Homo sapiens: one gene and its partner. The protein of the gene in region 1 interacts with the protein of each later gene in a biochemical or structural test. Each region holds a gene or a part of one and is shown on either strand. Other genes may lie near its edges. The genes, in order: ARR3 and RHO.

Region 1 (9,954 bases):
AATATTATTTTTAGTATAGCATTTTTAGTGAAAATATAGATATGTTTGCACAGAAAATATGAATAAATAAGATCAAAAGATTAGTGATTAAAGATGGTAAGGTTACACAGTCTCTCCTTCATCTATGTTTTCTAATTTTTCTACAATGGAGACAAACCTAATAATTTTCAAAGATACAGCAAATAGATTCACCTTGGTTCTCAATTATGGCCAATTATAGTGAGAGAAAGGAGAGAGAAAGAAAGGAAAATAAGGCACAAAGGAAAGGAAAAAGACAGAAAGTAAAAAGGAGAGGAAAAGAGGTGGCTGGTAGGAGGCAGGGTGAGAGAAGAAATGAAAAAGATGAGGAATGAGACAGAAAAAAAGGTCAGGATGGGCGAGGCAGAAGGGGATCTAGTAGCACCTGAGGTAAGGACGTTAATCAGATGACTTGTTCTTGGAATCGCTTTCTGTTCCTGTGTTGGGAAGGCAGCAGACTAAGACATCAACTGCATCACGCAACTCCTACCCCCAACTGAAGCTCTAATTGGCTCTCTAGCAGTTTAGAATCGTCCTTTTTTTTGCATGCTAGGAAATAGCTTGTTTTTATTTTCTTTTAAAGTCAGTATCTATTTTAAAGTTATTAATGTATAGTTGTGTTTATTCTACAAAATATATGTTAATTGTCTGAACATCAGAAAATACAAACAAAAAGACAAATCAAAGCTCCACCATAATATATCATGTTCCACAGATAACTACTGTTAATACCTGTTATGTGTGCTTCTCAACTTTGTCTGTTGCTATAATTGAACACAAGGCCACCTTAGGTATTTTTTACTTTTCTCTCATTGCCTTTTTGAAGTTAAACTTTGTATTTTGAGATCATTGTAGAGTCACATGCAGTTGTAAGAAATAATACAGAGAGAGATTCCAGATAGATTTTTGTTAAACAACAATTCGTTCACACCACCACATATACTGCCCTATCACTGGCCTTTATCACTCCACAGTATAGGGTAAGCATATTTTACATCCACAAATGTACCTTGATAGAAAAACACATTAGAAAATATGATGCAAACAAGACAATCTTCACAGAGGTAACAAACCATATTGAAAAACTAAGAATAAACAAGAAATATGCACAACTTAAATGAAAAGTAATATAAAACTCTACTAAGGGGACATAAAAGAAGATTAGAATAAAAGGAAAAATGCATCTCTTCCTGGAACAACATATATTTTTAACTAAAGATTTCTTTCCATAGCTTGTGAAGATTTTGTAGAAATGTGAAAAAATGATTTAGGTTTTAGAAATATAGAATACTTGGGAACCTTAAATAAGTTGGTTAATTTATGAGTCTATCCCAAAGTTCCTCTGATACTTAAAACCGATTTGATTGCTTATTTACACTGCTTAATCTGAGAGATTTAGGCTACTTTATTCTCCAATATCTAACAGTTACATCTGAACTAGTATTCATCAACCCATTCAGAGCCTTTTTCAAATCAAACCCAATTTTCAGTCTAGTTGGATCACAGTGGGGTTAATCCATAGTGAGAATTAAAAGGAAAAAAAGCAGCAAAAAAAAAAAATCAGCATAATCTTGATCTGTAATACTGCTGCCAGAGTAATGTTTCTTAGTGTTACTTCCTATGGTTGTTGTTTTGTTTCTTTGTTTGGGATTTTTTTTTCTTGAATAAAAGGTCAGCCAGTTTCCCTACACAAAAAAAGGAGATGGAAAGACGTATACCAGAGGTTACAAAATGACAGCCTGAAAGTCACATCTAGCCAACAGAAAAAAAAAAAAAGTTTATAATCTATCCAGGCTTCTAAAGTCTTTTAGTGAGTTGCTGACATTTGAAAATCAGGAAATTTGCCTTAAAATATGGATTTCTGACTTACTGGATCATTCTATAGGCAGTCTAAGATCCAGATCAATAGCCAAGCAGGGGCACCACCAGTAATAATAGAGAAAATCTGAAATTCTGAAAGAAGCTATTTTAATTTCAGCACAAGTGTAAGTTTTGTGTAATTTTGAAAAATAAAATTTAATTTATGCTTTAGATATTTACTTTGAATATTATTTGGGTAAGGGGGCACCATAATCTTTTCACACTTTGGGCCTCTAAAAGTCTTATTTTGAGCTTCGTTTACAGCTCCTCATTAACAATTAGAAAATTTGGCCACACTGGGCTGGAATTCCCAGTTGTCAGCCTCCACCAGAGAAGGCATTCGCAGTTCCTGCCACTTTCTGGTTTTGTTGTACTCTGGTGCAATCCACTCATCGGGTTACCTGTCTGAAACATACAAAGACCAACAAGGATTTCCACTTACACTTTCGACATTTTAAGTACTCAGGATCAACCAGGACAACACCGTCTGTGGAGAGAAGGACAGACAGCACTTTGGTCAGGAAAAACTCTCAGACTATGAAACAGAGGATGATCCCTGAAATGGTTCTTCCTATTCTTCCCTTTAATTTGCCTCCTTTTCTGCACGGTCTTTCCTGGACTTTCTTTTACTCCCTAGTTTCCATTCCTCTTTCCCCAGGCTTCCCTTTTTTGGACTCACTGACCAATGGGTTCCACCGTGTCCACATGGTCCACGAAGTCCCGTTTCCCCAGGTAGATGGAGAGCTGTTGTGGAACAACTTCCCATGTTATTCTCACAATCATTTTTGAATGGATTCCCCTGAAACCCCCAACCCAGACCCCTGAGACCTTGAAGGATGTACCCACCTATCCCTTTTGCCCTCTCATTTGCCCAGCTGGGCCAGGTTCTCTCACCTTCCCATTGGAGCTGGTCTTCTTAAACACCCTATGAGGAGAAAACCAGAAAGAGGATGGAGAGGGGGATTGGAAGTGCAGGGAAGAGGAAATAAGGGAATTGGGGAGAAAAAGAAATATTCTTAGGATTAGGAGAAGAGGCTCCAGGAGCATAGGATGGGGCAAAGGTAGGGATAATTGGGGTAGAATCCAAGGACACAAGTTAGGGAGAAATTGGAAATCCCCCTACCCCAAAGGGAAATACTTGGATTGGGGTAGGGAGCAATTCACAGGTTCAGAGGATTAGAAGGAATTCTTACTTGGACATGTTGGCTATATAGTTGATGTTGAGCCTTTTCTGGGAAAAGGGAAAGAAGAAAGGCTCAATCATTTCATTTCTATTCTTCTCACCCCACTCCAGCATACCATCCATATACACCTAGTGTGATGTAACCTTTCCTCCTTAGACAGACACCTCACCCACATCAAGTACCTCCTATTCTCCCTTCTGCCAAGGGTACTTCTTCAGCCATATTCTTGCCCATCTTGGGCAAGAGGGGAAAAAAACCTTCCTATTTTGTACAAATCATTGACTAACCATACTATGTATTCTCCAGAAAGGGCCAAACTTCCTAGAATGGCTGGGGAACTCTTGAGAACCCTGAGAGAGAAGGAACTTCTCTGGAAAGAGGCTGGACAGAGGCTTCCATCCAGAAAAGTGTGAGAAAAATGTGTTTCTTGGTCTGTATGAGGCTAGACATCCCCTGGCACACACTAGGTGCCAAGACATGTTTGTTGGATACATGAATGAATGAATGAATGAATGAATGAATGGACAAATCAATGGATTCTGTCTCCTTCTGCTCCTGCAATGGATCCTGAACCTGAGTTCACCTCATGATGCCCTTGACTCTCAACAAAGAAGGGAGAAAAGTGTGAGAGAGAAGGGGTTGGTGCCTTCATGCTCTCAGTTTTTGGTGACAGAAGTCTCTATGGAGGTTGAAAGTCCTCCTTGAACCAACTCATCCCTCTCATTGCCTTTCCTAGATTTTCCCATCCTTATCCCCATCCAGGTCCCCAGGGGCTAGGCCTTTGGATGGGAATCCTTAGAGAGAGGGAGATGTCTCTCTAGTGCTTTCCTTTGATGCTTACTGAGCCTGGCCCAGGGGGTGAGCTTAGGGGAGCTTCCAGAGGTCTTTGGAGGGTCTCTAGGCCTGAATGTCTATAGGCTATGTCAGGAAGGGTGTCCCTCAACTGCTGCCTGATATATTAAGAGGGATGCTAAGAGCAAGGGATATAGGGCTTAGTATGGGCTAGAAGTAGAGGGCTTTGGAATATTACCTGGGGAGAGAGATGAAGTTCACATCAGTCTCCAGCTCTGGTTGCTATGCCTGCCTCCCCAGCCTCTTATACCCACAGTCCTCTGAGTGTTTTGATTGGTGGGGGTCATGGGAAAAGAATAGGGTTCTTGGTGGGGGGGCATAAAACACTGCTATAAATAGTTCAGGTGCCAAGAGTTTGGAAAGCAGATTAGTGCCTAAAAGATTAGTGGCTAAAAGATTAGCAGGCTATTGCTGCTGGGACAGAGTGGGGGTAGGAGGTTGATTCTGATGATGTTAAAGGCAAGGGAGTTTGAGAAGGGTAACTTCAGGATTTTGGCCTTGTGAGGCCTTGAACCTGAGAACTGGGATCAAAGTGGAGTTGGAGGTCTTAAAGGTGAAGCATGGTGGGGGATTGAAATGGGAGGGCTCAAAGTATAGGCCTTTGTGTTTTTGAAAGGAATACCTCGTGTCCCACTCCAATCTCTATATCAGCGGCTCCAGGCCACACAAAAGCCAAGGGTATGGGAAAGAGTACCTCGTCCCCAGCCCCCCACCACTTTGGGACATTGGACTTTTGAAGCTGATGTTTAGAAACCCTGATTATCCCAGCTTATGTGCACAGCAGGAGTCAATCTCCTGTAGGTAGTGGGGGCAGGAGTGGTGGAGGGGGATCTGAGTGCATTGAGCTGTGTATGCACATGTCTGTGAGCCTTGAACTTCTCTTCTCATTGGAGAGGAAGGTAATATAAGATTCCCAGCCCAGGGACAGGTTCTTCTGGCAGGACATGCATGTGGAGGGAATAGGCGGTTGACATCTGTGTCACCCCTACCGAGGGTAAACCTCCTCACCCCAGCTCTTGACTCTGTCCAATCCCTGAAACTAACTAAGTCCATGCTCTAAGCAGCTTCTCTTGCCTCGTATGACCGCTCATGGAATTAGAGATATTTCTGTCTCTTCAGCTGCCAGGACCCCCACAACAGCAACAACAAAGTAATCTTCCTTTCTTGACTGTCCTTCCCACAGGGCCTAGGCTCAGGCTTCACGGGCATAGAAAATGTAGAGACAGAATCTATAAGCTCTGGGGTTTCAGGACTCTGACCTCCTTCACCTCCCCTTACAGCAGTCTGGACATTAGTAGTTATCTATAGACACAGCCCTCAACCCCAACCCCCACAATGGGGTGTCCATTCCTCAGAGGATGGCTATGGCTATGGCTCAGAGGGCTGGGCAGGGCCTTCCCTAACTCCTGCCCCTCACTGAGGGCCCTGGACAGCTGTCCCATATTCTCTTTGCACAGTTCACAGTGTCAGCCCCTGCCATTCCTAGCCAATATGCATCTCAGGGCCTGGTTGTTTAGTTACTATAACTCTCTCCTTCTCAGGGGCTTTCAGATAGTGCAAGAAGCCCAGATTCTGCAGGTACCACAGTGGGATAGGAACTGATGCTGGACATACAGGAAAGATTTGTATACATGCCAAGGTTGGTGTCTGCGAGGAAGGCGAAAAGTCAGAATGAATCTACTTTTCATGCCAGACATGGCAATATTCAATGGCAGGAAAGGAAGGCCTCTCTTCTTGTATGCTTATTTTCATCATTCAGGAAACCTTTCCCAGATCTCTAGAATGACTAGTGGTCAGCCTGTTTTTGTCTTTAGACCCACACTCGAGGCTCCTACCTCCCTTTTAGGTACTCAATCCCGCTTATCTTCTCTTTCTACTCAGATCCATGGGCCTCTCGGTAGGAAAAGAGTAGATCTGCTAGGTCTTTAATTCATTATTATGATGGAATGTAAATCATTACTCTTTTCCAGAAGTTTGTGCATTTCTTGACTGAGGTAAAATTCACAAATCTTAACTGCAGCTCAATGAATTTTTACCTACTGTGGCAAGCTGAATTATGCCCCCAAAGATGTCAGGTCTTAATCCTGGGAACCGATGAACATTACCTTATATGAAAAAGAGACTTTGCAGATGTGAATAAATTAAGGATGTTGAAATAGGGAGATCATTCTGGATTATCCAGGTGGGCCCTAATGTAATCACCAGTCTCTTTATGAGAGAGGGGCAGAGAGAGTTTTGACTCTGAGATAGGAGGAAATATGAGGCCTGAAGCAAGATGTTAGGCTGCTGGCTTTGAAGACGGAGGAAGGGGCCATGAGCTAAGGAATGCAAGGAATACAGCTCTAGAAACTGGAAAAGACAAAGAAATCGATTCTCCCCTAAAGTCTCTCATGGCTGCAAGATGGCTGTTCCTGCTCAGGCATGGCCCTGCTGAAACCTTGATTTTGGTCCATTGAAACTGATTTTGGACTTCTGACCTCCAGAACTGTAAGAGAAGAACTGTGCATTGTTTTAAGTCACCAAGTCTGTGGTAATTTATTACAGCATCCATAGGAAACTAATACACCTGCGTAAACGCGCATATAACGACCACCCAGGTTAAGATATAGAACATTTCCATCCCCCCAGAAAATTTCTTTGTGCCTCTTTCCAGTTAGTAGCTTCCCAAAGAGAACTGTCACCAGTTTTGCTTTGACCTGGAATACTTGCATTTTACAAGGATGCAACAGTAAGTAGGCAAAGGAATGCATAGCTAATGGAGTTTCTGGCCCCTATAATACATGGGTGGAAGAAATATTTTTAGGTCCTTACCCACCCTCATTCTGTACACCCGGATGATATCCCCAACCAGACCTTCCAGTTAGAAAATGATGATCAGATGTCTGCATGAGGAAGGAGTGGGTTATTCAGTAAAAGGTTGTAGCAGACAGAATTGCTTACCAACTCAATAGTCATCTCCCTCTTCCTCCTTGTGGAAAGAATCCCCATTTTTAAGGTAATTCATCCTCCTCCGCATGAGTCTGTGCTCCTCTATGCCAGTCATGGTCGTTTTATCCCCCTTGCCAGTGATCAGCCTAGTTATAGGCATGGTGAAATTCAGGCCACTGTGATGTGAGAGGAGGTATGCTGGAGAGATTCTGGGAAAGTTTTCTTGAATGATAAAAATAAGCATACAGGAAGAGGCCTTCCTCTTTTACCATTGAATATTGCCATGTCTGGAAACAATGCCTGACCGGCAATAGCCACCTTGTGACCATGAAAGTTGCTAAATAACATGCTGAGGTTTGCAAATCAGAAAGATGGAAAGAATCAGGATTTTTTAATGACATTGTTGAACTGCTGAATTAATCAGCTCCAAAGCCACCCACTACTGAACTTATATGCAAGATAATATATTTCCTTTTTTAAAAACAGTCATCTAAGTTGGGATTTTCTGTTATTGCAACTGAAAACATAGCAAAAGATTCAAGTGGGATGTGGATGAGGCATTAGCTCAGTGGGGGAGGACGGAACGGAGATAGATGGATTAAATCGCAGAAACAGATTTCCTGTGCTGTCCTAGGTGCTGAACAAACTAGTCCTGGTCTCCACTCTAAGGTTGTTAACAGCCTTGCTGGAGATAAAGTTGGACATGTAGAAAGACAAAAAGGGCACACTACAGAGAATACATATGGACAAAGTTAACTTGTGTACAACTATGTGAAGCCAGTCACTTCCCAATGATTTTATTAGTAAGTTTAGACATCCAGGGCTTCAGATCACTACTCCTTTCCATTGAGATTGAGTGACTTTCGTGTTCCACTTACTCTCAGCAGGTAATTCCATTTGTTCACTTCATAAAGAAAATTCAGCCAATTGGAGTGGACCTCACACCTTCCAAATACACGTATACTTTAATTCTCAATAACGACAATGAGGGCACTCTGCTGGGTTCCTTACATGCATTGCTTCATTGTCTTCTCACAACAAGCTAGGTGCTAGCATCCTCATTCTACATATGAGGAAATGGAGGTTCAGAAAGACTTATCCATAGTCATAGCCGGCAGGCGATGGAGCCAGAGTTCAACCCTAGGTCTGTCTGACTCCAAGCCTGCATTTTTTCCACTATATCACTTACCTTCCCTCCCTCATTTTCTTCCCTCTCCCTCCCTTCCTACCTTTATTCCTCCTTTCTCCCCTCCCTCCCTCCTTCCCTCCTTCTCTCCCTTCCTTCGTTCCTTTCCTCCTAACTCAGATAAAGAGATTAGAAATCATGCCTCTTCCCCCTTTCCTTCTTAAAGCCCCAAGGAAACAGCAAACCTTGCAAAGAAACTGTCATCAAGACAATTACGAATATTAGATGTGAAGGGCCAGGAGGGAGAGGACTGGAACAAACTGGAGGAGTAGGGCAATGGAAGGGTGTCAGCAATAATGGTATTTGTACATCTTATTTATCTCTGTCAGGGAAAAAATAGTAAACTTTTCCTGCATACTAAATTCCAGACATCAATGAGATACCCAAGTGTGTGTGTCCTATAGCAAACAACATATATAGGGCTTAGATTATAGATGTGGGAACCATTCAGTTCAACAAATTATAATTAAGTCATTCATTCACTCAACAACTATTATTGAACATGTACTATGTGGAAGGTACTTGTTTTCTTAACTCTGAATTGGAAGGCATTTTTTGGGGGACAGCAGAGAATATAATTTGAAAGGAAATATCTAGAACATATGTTATAATAACTTTACCTGGAAGGCTATGGGAAAGACAGAGGTAAAATGAGGTACATGTTCTCAAGGAGCTCTGGTTCTGGTATGGGGGTGGGAGGATCAGGAGGAGATGGCCAAAAACACAAATGAGTATAATTCTAGGCTGCCTGTGGTATGTGCCATCTCTGTAGAAATCAAATGTGATAAGAGTGTGAGAGAAGGAGAGATGCATTTTGATTAGAGAGAGATCTGTATGCTGGAGTCTCTTGGCCATTACAATTTTTGATAACCTCTGAGTCATAGTTGAAATCATGAGAGTGGATGTTCCAAGAGAGAAGGGGAAGAGAGGGTGGGGGTAGGGGGAGAGAGATGGTGGAGAGGGAGAGAGAGGAGAGGAGAGGAGAGGAGAGAGGAGAGGAGAGGATCTTTGGGGGAAGGCTCACATGTTGGGGAAGTAGGGGAAAAAAGAGCCAGGGAAGGGGCCAGAAGGAACATCCAGAGGAAGAGGAGAACCGGAGTAAAGCAAAGTCACAGGAACCAAAGTAAAGAAGAGTTTCACAGAAGAGAGTGAGGCTGATCTGCTGCATTCCGTTCCTCTTGGCCCTGGGTGAGGACAGTAAAAGCCAGGCAGGTGTGCCGGTTGGGGAGGGTTGGGAGAGGTCTTTTCCTGAAATAGCCACTGGGCGGCAGTGGTGGCAGCAGCAGCAGCTGCAGCTGTGTCGGGACATGCAGAAACGTAGCAGAGCTAAGTCAGGAGAAATGTAGCAGAGGTAAACCAGCCTGAAGCAGTAGGAGCAGGAAGCTGGCTCAGGCTGGGGCTTCTCTAGTGTAGTGCTTCTCCTTGGGTGTACACCAAACTTCAAAACACGCTTGTCCACCTCTGCAGAGGCCAGGTTCATTCCTGGGAGCAAAGCAGTAACAAAAAACACCTTCTAAACTTGCAGCATTTTATGGTTCACAAAGTGCTCCACACCTGTTAACCAATTCAATATTCAGGAAACCCTAAAAGATTGGTATTATTATTATTCCCATTTCACTGGTGAAGAATGGAAGTTACAAAGAGGCGCCCAGGCTCACATAACTAATAAGTGGAAGAGCAAGGATTTAAACACCAGCCCGTCTGGCTTCAAAAACTTGGGCCTCTTATGTAATGTCACAGTAGTCAGCTGTCCAGGACTCAGGTTATGACTGTGTCCTCCACTGCTACCTTTTATTCCACCCTTTACTCTGCCACAGGGCAAGGATCTTCAGTTTCCCCATCCAGGTTTCTGGGCTTTCCGAGAGATCTAGATTCTAGATTCTAGAAGTCCGCCTCCTCCTCTCACTCCCAGGATCCAGCTGGGTG
Region 2 (10,357 bases), on another chromosome or scaffold:
GACAGTGGACGGGCCTCAGGAAACCCAGAGCGTCCAGCGGCTCTGCTTCCAGAGGATAGAACTAGGCCAGATTGGAGAAGATGGGGAAAAAGTCCAGGGGGTGGGCTCAAATTCAGCAAGGGGTAAGAAATGGACCCTAGCAAGACTGAGGAGGAAAGGGAAGTGAGAGTGGGAATTTTCTGGAGACAGAGGGACATGAGGCCTCTGGGGACCAGAGTCACCAGTCCTATTGTCCAAACCACTGTCCCCACTGTGTCTCATCTCAGCCCCATTAGGAGACAATCGCCTAGAGGCTGAGTGGGACCCAGTTCCAAGGGGCCACAATATGGCCACCTGCACTAGGAAGGTGTGGCCTCCCCTGCTGCTGAGGCCCAAGGTTAGAGGGGGCTGCCCCCGGGGTACTAGACCAAAGAGGATTGGAATTTGCGCCTAGCTTAGTTGAGGATTAGGGGCACAGCCAAGGTGAAGGGTTGGGATGTCTTGGATTCTGTTTGACATGGGGCTCAGGAGATGGGACCAGCCCTTGTAGCAACATTAGAGTCTGTTTCTTCTTCTGCCCTACACCCCTACCCTGAGTGGGCATTTGGGCCAGGAGACATACAAGGTCAGTGCCTGGAACCAGACACTACTGGGTTTGAGTCCTGACTGGAGGACCCTACAAAGAGCCCCCGGAGCTTCTTCCCTTCTGCTCAGTGCCATTACCTGGACCAGCCGGCGAGTGGGGGTGCGGCGCAGGCCAGCGCCATGACCCAGGTGAAGGCAACGCCCATGATGGCATGGTTCTCCCCGAAGCGGAAGTTGCTCATGGGCTTACACACCACCACGTACCGCTCGATGGCCAGGACCACCAAGGACCACAGGGCAATTTCACCTGCAAGGCAGTCAGCAGGCGGTCAGCACAGACCCCACTGCCTAAGGAGGGTGCACTCCCCCCTAGACAGGGAGAGGGTAGCTAGGAAGGCAACCAGGAGTGGGAGAGGGATTTGAGGAGGCCTTGGGGAAGGAGAGAGCTTGGTGCTGGGAGGAGGGGGAAGGGGCAGAGGGACCACACGCTGAGGAGAGCTGGGCAAAGAAATTCCAGGGAATGGGGGAAGTTATTTGCTTAGCGCTCTGGGCCCATAAGGGACACGAATCAGATCAGGGGGTCAGGATTGAACTGGGAACCCGGTAGGGAGTTTTGTGTGTGTGTGTGTGTGTGTGTGTGTGTGTGTGTTGTGTGTGTGTGTGTGTGTGTGTGTGTTTAGCAGAAGAATGCATCCTAATGTGGGGCAGAGTTCCTTGTTGGGAAGGAATGCAGAGGTGGTGGAAACCCAGAATTGGCAGTCCTTCCTCCCTCTCCCTTCTCGGGAAATGAAATAACCCGGACATGTGGGGGCCTCTCCTAGGAGCCATGAAGCAATGTGCAATGTTTTGCCCAGAGGAAGAAGAAGGAAATGATGGAATTCAGACATCTGTCCTGCTCACCACCCCATGAAGTTCCATAGGGAGAGTGGCCATATAGTTAATCAACCAAACTGGGACATTCCTAACAGTGAAAGGGACAATATTTGTAAACTGGGACTGACCCTGCAGAGAACAACCACCCGTAAGTGGCACACCCACCTTCTGGCCAGAACTGAGTGATCTGTGATTATTGAATGCAACAAACACCCAACAATGGCCAGAGATTCCCTGAGAATGGGACCGAGGCAGCAGCCTGGACATGGGGGAGACAGGGCAAGGCTGGCAGAGAGACGCTTGTGGCTGGCGGTAAGCTCTCCCCGTCACCCAGCTTTGCAATGGCTGCTTCTAGCGTCTCCTCCTGCATCTCAGCAGAGATATTCCTGGATCACAGCCAGGAGACCTAGGCTCTTGTTGCTGCCTGGCCACATCCCTAAATGAGTCTCTTCCCCTCTCCCTGCCTCAGTTTTCCTCTCTGTTAAGTGGGATCTGTTATCCCTGCAGCACCCCATCTGTTTTCCTGTTAAATGCAAGACATTATTCTAAAGCAAAAAGGAACTGCTTCAGAGCGGCTGCTTGCGGTTCTCAACACCAGGAGACTTGGAACGCGGCAGGGAGGCTGGAGGGGCACCTGAGGACAGGGGCTGAGAGGGGAGGCAGAGGATGCCAGAGGGGACCGAGCCCATTGCCCAGCACAGGGAAGACCCAATGACTGGAGAATGGAAAATCCACTTCCCACCCTGAGCTTGGGCCCCCAGAGAGGAGGGGTCTGGCTTGCCCAGCTCTCCCTCAGTGCCCAGCCTGGGTCTGACTCAGCACAGCTGCTCCAAGGGAAACAGAGGCTTGGTGCTGCAAACATGGCCCGAGATAGATGCGGGCTTCCAACTCAACTCTGCACCCGTCCCTGTGTGACGCCCCAGCAGGGCGCTTGACTTCTTTGAGCCTCAGCTCAGTTTTCTTGCTGTGAAATTAGACAAGCGCATATTGCTCCAAATAAGATCAAGGCAGTGTTCAGTGCCAGCCCTGCACAAACAGCAGCCCGGCTATCACCATGAATGGTGTTTGTTGACTGAATATATGAGGGCTTTGGATAACATTGACAGGACAGGAGAAGGGAGAAGGCCTCTCAGCCACCACCGCCAAGCCCGGGACTCTCCCAGACCCCTCCATGCTCCCGGGCTCCTGCACACCCCACCCACACCCGGCTCATACCGCCCAGGGTGGCAAAGAAGCCCTCCAAATTGCATCCTGTGGGCCCGAAGACGAAGTATCCATGCAGAGAGGTGTAGAGGGTGCTGGTGAAGCCACCTAGGACCATGAAGAGGTCAGCCACGGCTAGGTTGAGCAGGATGTAGTTGAGAGGCGTGCGCAGCTTCTTGTGCTGGACGGTGACGTAGAGCGTGAGGAAGTTGATGGGGAAGCCCAGCACGATCAGCAGAAACATGTAGGCGGCCAGCATGGAGAACTGCCATGGCTCAGCCAGGTAGTACTGTGGGTACTCGAAGGGGCTGCGTACCACACCCGTCGCATTGGAGAAGGGCACGTAGAAGTTAGGGCCTTCTGTGCCATTCATGGCTGTGGCCCTTGTGGCTGACCCGTGGCTGCTCCCACCCAAGAATGCTGCGAAGGCCTGAGCTCAGCCACTCAGGGCTCCAGCTGGATGACTCTGGGTTCTGACCCCCCCAGACCCTTATAAAGTGACCTCCCCCTCCTAAGCTCCTGGCTGAATCAGCATCTGGGAGATTGGGGGTGTTCATAATCATATTAATCCCCGCTGCAGAAACTGAGGGCCTAATTGGCTTCTAAGAGGGGCCAAGGTGACACTAGGAGGAAGCCTGAGGTCAGGGAGGAGAGGTACTCAGGATCCAGGAAAAGGGAGGAGAAGGTCCCCTAACTTCTGCATGACTTGTCTGTCCCAAGGTCCCAGCTCAGTCTGGTGGCCTGGGTTTGAAATAGGGACCATGGGCCTCTGTGCTATGTCCTCTGGACAGCTAGAGACTTTCTGGTTTATTCTCCCAGTCTCTCATCTCGTCACACAGCCCCTTACCTGTTCGTTCCCCCACAAGTTACCTCTGGAGTCATCCAGTCCCCACACTCCTCTGACAGGAGGAGCTCCATGAGGGCAGGGGCTGCAACCTGCAGCTTCCGTTTCTGGTGCCAGACACATAGCCTAGGGCCCAGGAGCCCAATCCTTGTTGCATGGAATTGGAATTCACTCTCTTGTTCGTTCATTAAACATTTATTTGCAGGCCCCTGGGAATACAAAGATGGAAAGAAACAGCCCTGCCCAGAGGAGCTCAGGGGCTGAGGAGGACTCAAATGTGGGAAGAAGCAGATTCCGTCCAGGGTGGCTGTGAGGTTGTGGAGACAGGGCCTGACTGCCTGGGGGTTGCAGTCTGGGAGGCCATGTTTGGGCCTTTGAGAGAAGGAGCAGTTTGCCAGGTGGCTAGGTGGGGAAGATCTGGGCTGGGGGCAGTTGTAATGGGTCTTGAACGCTAGGCCGGGGAACCTGGCTTTATCCAGAGGAAAGTGAGCAGTGGCTTGGGCAGATCACTGGTGTAGAAAGGTGACTCAAATGCCCCCAAAGATGGAGTGGAGGGAGGGAGGATGGAGGGGGCTACCAGAGCAGGGGAGGGGCAGAACCCTTCAGGGGACTCCAGTCTGAAGGGGAGGCTGGCCCTGGAGGCAGCAGACAGGGCACTGTTGGGGGAGGCCTAATCAGCCACGAGGGCCTCAAATGCCATGTACCAGGTGGCCCCACGAGGGCCGATTCCAGAATAGCAGGATGTACCGTGAGAAAGAAAGTAGTCAGAGCCTTGGGGGCAGATGACTGGGGGAAAATGGAGGCCAACACTGGCAGGTCCCCCTCTCCCCGTCGTCCAAGCAACATGATGACACCTCCCAGGAATGAAGTGGGGTGTCTGGGGCGGCCTGTGCAAGTGCTGAGAGTGCCCGACGTGCGGCCGCTCAGTGACCACTGTCCAGCCAACATGTGTATTGAGCACCTACTGTGGCCCAGACAAGGTGCTTGGTCCTTGGGGACACACAGGGTACACGAAAGAGCAAGCTCCTGCTCACAAGAAGCCAGTGTTTTTGTGGGGTGAGGGGGCACAGGGACCACAAACAAATAGAAGAGCGAATAACAGTAGGGACAGTTCAGTCGCAGCCACTCCCAACACAGGAGGCTTCTCTGAGAAGCTGGAGCTTGAGCTGAGAACGGAACAACAGGAGGAAGCTTCAGGGGAAGGACATCCAGGCGGAAGGACCCCTGAGAGTGCAAAGCCCTGATGCCTGGGAAATATCCCTTAATCTCTCTCTCACTGTCTCTCTTCCCACCCAGGATTCCCAGATCTGTCTGCTCAGAAGAGTGCCCCCTTCCCTGCAGCCCACCTGGGCTCCAGCCCCCTACCTGGCCTGGGTGGTGTTGGGTCTAACAGCGTTTGGCACACGTGGCAGGGCTAAGGCAGGGCGGGTGGGATGGGGCCTCTCGTAGTTTAAGGCGCTTGGCCTGGTGATTATGCCCAACGCTAATGAGGTTAAGGTGAGGGTTTGATTCTGACGTGGACCCTCATGGCCAGAAGGAGGGTGTCCTGGATGCCTTGGGTCAAGACTGACCCACAACTGGCCCCTCCCTGGCCGGGCTGAGCCCCCATCCCACACAGCTTAGCAGTACCTCAGCATCTTGCTTTTTGCATAGTGCTTCTGACAGCATGGAAGCTTTTTATTTGTGTTTTGTGCCCGTCTCCCTGCCTGTAACATGAGTCCACAAGGGTAAGCCTGGGTCTGTCTTGCTCACAACAGGGTTCCCAGAGACCAGCATGGTGCTTGGCCTGTAGTGGAAAGAGGTGGGATGATGTCTGTTTTGTTCACTGATGTGTCTCCAGGGCCTGGCACCTAGAAGGTGCTCCTGAATATTTGTTGAATGAACGAGTGAGTGGGGGAATGGACCTAGATGATCTCAGTACTTCCCCTCTCTGTCTCAGGTTCCTCCTTTGTGAGTTTCACAATTGCAACCTCATGGAGCCCTGGTGATGGGGAACTAACAGCCATCACTGAGGTGACAGTGCTCTTTATTCTGTAAAGCTTGACGAAGAAAAAAAAAGTTTTGAGACAAGGTCTCTGTCGCCCAGGCTGGAGTGCAGTGCCACAATCATAGCTCACTGTAGCCTCTGCCTCCTGGGCTCAAGCGATCCTCTCACCTCAGCCTCCTGAGTAGCTGGGACCACAAGTGCACACCACTAGTTTTTGTATTTTTTGTAGGGGTGGAGTCTCGCTATGTTGCCCAGGCTGGTCCTGAACTCCTGGCTCAAGCGATCCACCCTCCTCGGCCTCCCAAAGTGCCAGGATTATAGGAGTGAACCACCGTGTCCGGCCCAAGAAATTTTTTTTTAAACAAAAAATGCTCTTTGTTCAGGAAAACAGACTCATAGTGAGCTGGAAGGGTCATTCGAAGTCACCTACTCTGACCATCTCTGCTATATCCATTTTGCAGATGAAAAGACTGAGGCCTAGCTCTGCAGAGTTGCTCAGGTCCCGTTACAAATCAGTGACAGCCTGGGCTATAACCCACACAGTCAACTGGGCTTCCTGGGGTATCAGCTTCCCAAACCTGGCTATGCCTCCCTCCCCTCATCAAAGATAGCTCTCAGGAAAGACCAGCCAGCCATTCACACCATGGTATAAATGACTAAAGAAAGGTTTAGCTGGGGTAATGGAAAGGCCCTAGACTGAGTCACACAGGCCTGGCGTGGGGCAGTGGAAGCCTCGAGGAGAGGAGGCTGGATTCTAGCTGGTCTTTGAGTCACCATGGTAGTCCTGCTTCCTTCCCCTCTCTGGGCCTCAGTTTGCTCAGACGAGGAAGCCTCAGTGTGGGGTAGGGGCACACCCATCTATACAGTAAACCTCACCTGCTTTCTCCATGAGAGCCTGGTTCGTGAATCTTTAGACCCTATGGCCTTGGTTTCACTGTTCTCCCTCATTGGGCAAGGCTCTTTTCCACCCACCCTTACATCTGGACTGAGGCTACACAGCCTGGGTGCAGCCAGCTACCCCGCCCTCCCGAGAGTGTGCTTCGGTTCTCCACTCTGTAAAATGGGAATGATAATAGTGCCTACCTAATAGGATTATTGGGAGTGCTTGTAAGTGATCAATATATTTGTTGCTGACAGTATTAATCTCTTCCTGAGTCTCCTTCAGGTCTCCGCTCACACTCATGTCCTTGGAGAGACCACCCCTGACCATCCTACACACCAGGCACCCCCACCAGGTTTAGCTGTTTTGAGACAGGGTCTCACTCTGTCACCCAAGCTGGAGTGCAGTGGTGTGATCTTGGCTCACTGCAACCTCCTCTTCCTGGGTTCAAGCGATTCTCCTGCCTTAGCCTCCCAAGTAACCAGGACTACAGGCATGTACTGCCATGCCTGGCTAATTTTTATATTTTTAGTACAGACAGGATTTTGCCATGTTAGCCAGGCTGGTCTCTAACTCCTGATCTCAAGTGATCCATCCGCCTCGGCCTCCCAAAGTGCTGGGGTTACAGGCGTGAGCCACCACACCTGGCCTATTGTTTTTTGAGACAGGGTATCACTCTGTGACTCAGGTTGGAGTGCAGCGGCATGATCATGGCTCACTGCAGCCTCAACCTCCTGGGCTCAAGCGGTCCACCACCTCAACCCCTGAGTAGCTGGGACCATTGGTGTGTGCCACCATGCCTGGCTAATTTATTTTCATTTTTGTAGAGTTGGGCTCTCCCTATATTGTCCAAGCTGTTCTCTAACTCCCAGGCTCAAGTGATCCTCCTGCCTTGGGAGCCACTTGGGAGGCTGTAATCTCAGCCTCCCAAAGTGCTGAGATTATAGGTGTGAGCAACCACACCCAGCCATGTTCAGTTTTTACACAGTCATTACCATCAGCGACTATCTCATTTGTCTTCTTAAAACAATTTTTAAATGTTTTTTAGAGATGAGTCTTGCTCTGTTGCCCAGGCTGGAGTGCAGTGGCGCAATCATAGCTTACTGCAGCCTTGAATTCCTGTCCTAGGCTCAAGTGATCCTCCTACCTCAGCATCCCGAGTAACTGGGTCTACAGGCATGCCACCACACCTGGCCTCATTTGTCTACTTATTGACTGACTTCCCATCTATTTCTAGAATGCAGGACCAGCCTGGCCTGTTCATCGCTGCCTCTGAGCTCACAACCCATAGGAGGTGTTCAATAAACATTTGTTGAATGAATGAACAACTCCTCCTGCCCCCTATGAAGAGGGTCTAACTCCCCACTGACCACTGAGGAATCTGGGGTATGCAGGGTCAAAGTTCCTCTGCAGAGCTGGGATTTGAACACAGGCCTGGCCAGCACCCACACCTTGTGTCGGGCAGTCCAGAGAAACCCATGGTGTGGGTGTTGGCCAAGCTGGCATGTGGGGGGCTTTCTAAGCCAAGATGGCTGGATGCAGCCATCTTGGGGCACCCGAGTCCCAGCCCTCGGGAGCCCGGCTAGGGGCTTTGCCTTTGCCTCGGTGGATTAGGGGCTTAGCTTGCAGGGCACAAATCGCTCTTCAGCCTCTGCAAGAGAGGAGCTGCTGTGAGAGGAGCTGCTAGGTCAGCATCCTTCTCCTCCTTCTCCTCCTCCTCCTCCTCTTCCTTGGCTTTCTTTCTCCTGGTCCCCCACATGGCTCAGCCCCACCAGGCTGCGTCACCAAGGCTACATGAGGCCTTCAGCGGTACTGAGAGCATCAAGGGGGAATAAGGGAGGGAGAAAGACCAGCTCTCATTCCCTCCTTCCTCTTTCTCTTTTCTACCCTAGCATTTGCCAAACTCCTTATATGCGCCAGGCCCTGGGGACGCTGAGGTGGATCCCACATGGTTCCTGCTTTCAAGGGGCTCCCAGTCTCAGGGGGTACTGATCGGAAACTAAACATGAGAGATGAGCATTTTCTCCCAGTCCCAGTGCTGTGGGAGCCCAGAGGAGCAAAAGGTGGACCAGGAGGGTCAAAAGAGTCTCCCAAGCAGGGCAGGTAGGGAGGGCCAGCTGGGCCTGGAGGTGCTGGGCCCCCCAGGGTGGCGTGCTGGGGATAGAGGGCAGGCCTAGGGGTCTGGGTGTTGGCTGAATTGCATGGGCAGCTACTGCGGGTGGCAAGCAGGGAGGGCCATGACGAGGTCTCCATACCAGGCCAGTGTTCTGGATCTGCAGGGGGAGAATCAGGGAGGCTCGGGGTAAGCACCCTGCCCAGTGGTGGCCTCTGCTGTGGGCACACAGACTCCAAGCCAGGGAAGAGACACAGAGCGACCTTGGAGGAGGGGCCTCTGCCCACCTGTGTGACAGCCACCAGGGGCTCCTAGCTTCACAGCCTTGCTGGGGACAGATGGGAAACCAAGGCCCGGGGACCTCCAGCTGCCTGAGGTGCGTCTCCAGTCAGGTCCACCTGAGGCTGCTCAGTCTACCTCTCCCTTACTTCCTCCTTCCAAGAACATGGGCACAATGTTGAGCACTTGGAGATGAGAGATCAGGACCAGTCCCAGTCAGATGGGGTCTCCCTATATTGTCTGAGCTGGTCTCTAACTCCCGGCTCAAGCGATCCTCCTGCCTTGGCCTCCCAAAGTGCTGAGATTACAGGTGTGAGCGACCACACCCAGCCATGTTCAGTTTTTACACAGCCATTACGATCAACAGTTATCTCATTTGTCTTCTTAAAACAATTTTTAAATGTTGTTTAGAGATGAATGTTGCTCTGTTGCCCAGGCTGGAGTGCAGTGGTGCAATCATAGCTTACTGCAGCCTTGAATTCCTGTCCTTGGCTCAATTGATCCTTCCACCTCAGCCTCCTGAGTAGTTGGGACTACAGGCTAAAGGCCAGAATCACTGCCCCACCGTGCAGCCTTCAGCAGCTGCTCCTCTCTGGCCTCAGTGTCCTCTTAGTTCAATGGGCATCACCAGGTCCCTGTGGTGCCTTCCTTGTCACAGGCACTTGAGGGGTCAACAGGATCATCATCCAGCGCTGTTCACAGACGCAGACTGAGGCTGGAACCTCAGAGTCAGAGCTGGAGGGGGCCCTTTTGTGCAGATGGGGAAACAGCCTTGGAGAAAAGACTGGACTTGGTTCAGACCCAGATCAGGCTGAGAGAGAAAAGCAGCCAGACACAGGGCTTATGCACAAAGGTTGCACCCAGGTGCGACCAAATATGCCTTGGCTTAATGCATATTTGCTGAATGAAAAATAACATGACTGAGGCTCAGTGTCATCACCTGTGTAATAGGCAGCCTTGGATGATGCACGGAAAGTGCATCTGAATGAATAGGGGTCCTACTCAGGCCTCTAGAGCTGAGCTTCCTGGGGCAGCAGAGCCCGGCACAGCACACTCATTTTTGTGTTCTTCGGCTGAGGGGATGCATGCTGGAGTCTCGGCTGGAACCCTCCCCTGCCTCCAGCCAGGGACCATCTGATCTGTCACTGTGATTGACTGCTGGGTAGCTGGAGCTGTTTTCTCCCTCTCCCCTTTTTCCCAGCCATATGCAAATGATTTCAGTTGAAGTCATGCGCTAATGGAAATCCTAACACATTAATAAATGTTTAGTGAGAGAGCGCATGCATGATGGTAAGTAATTAGACACTCGACGGAGGAGTTCTGTTGGCACAACTGTCTGGCTCCCTTTCTTTATTTTCCTCCATCATCTCCAGAGAGATGCGGAGGGAGGCAGGGAGGAGGGGCGGTCTGGGGTGGGGCAAGGGCTCTGGGATGGGGCTCTAGCTCCGACACTTCCCACTGGGGGCCTCTGCAGCCACTCTCCTTGGGGTCTCAGTGTCTGCGTCCCTCCAGTGGGCATATTTGCCCTGCCCTGACCCCTGCACAGGTAGGTTGTAAGGAATCAATACTGCAGCACGAGGGGAGGGTGCGTTTCGGCATGGCATGACAGCCCAC

The links.
Region 2: the proteins of ARR3 (region 1) and RHO form a complex in vitro, tested with the Homo sapiens proteins (one study listed by BioGRID).

The regions. Positions count from the first base shown.
Region 1 is NC_000023.11:70,262,511-70,272,464, reverse strand, and holds the start of ARR3 (arrestin-C), read right to left. Parts: upstream 4,132-9,954; 5' UTR 4,093-4,131; intron 3,110-4,092; 5' UTR 3,080-3,109; coding exon 3,072-3,079; intron 2,804-3,071; coding exon 2,773-2,803; intron 2,623-2,772; coding exon 2,562-2,622; intron 2,390-2,561; coding exon of another isoform or gene 2,366-2,389; coding exon 2,321-2,365; intron 1-2,320. UniProt on the Homo sapiens protein: May play a role in an as yet undefined retina-specific signal transduction. Could bind to photoactivated-phosphorylated red/green opsins.
Region 2 is NC_000003.12:129,521,390-129,531,746, reverse strand, and holds the start of RHO (rhodopsin), read right to left. Parts: upstream 3,109-10,357; 5' UTR 3,014-3,108; coding exon 2,653-3,013; intron 872-2,652; coding exon 703-871; intron 1-702. UniProt on the Homo sapiens protein: Photoreceptor required for image-forming vision at low light intensity. Required for photoreceptor cell viability after birth.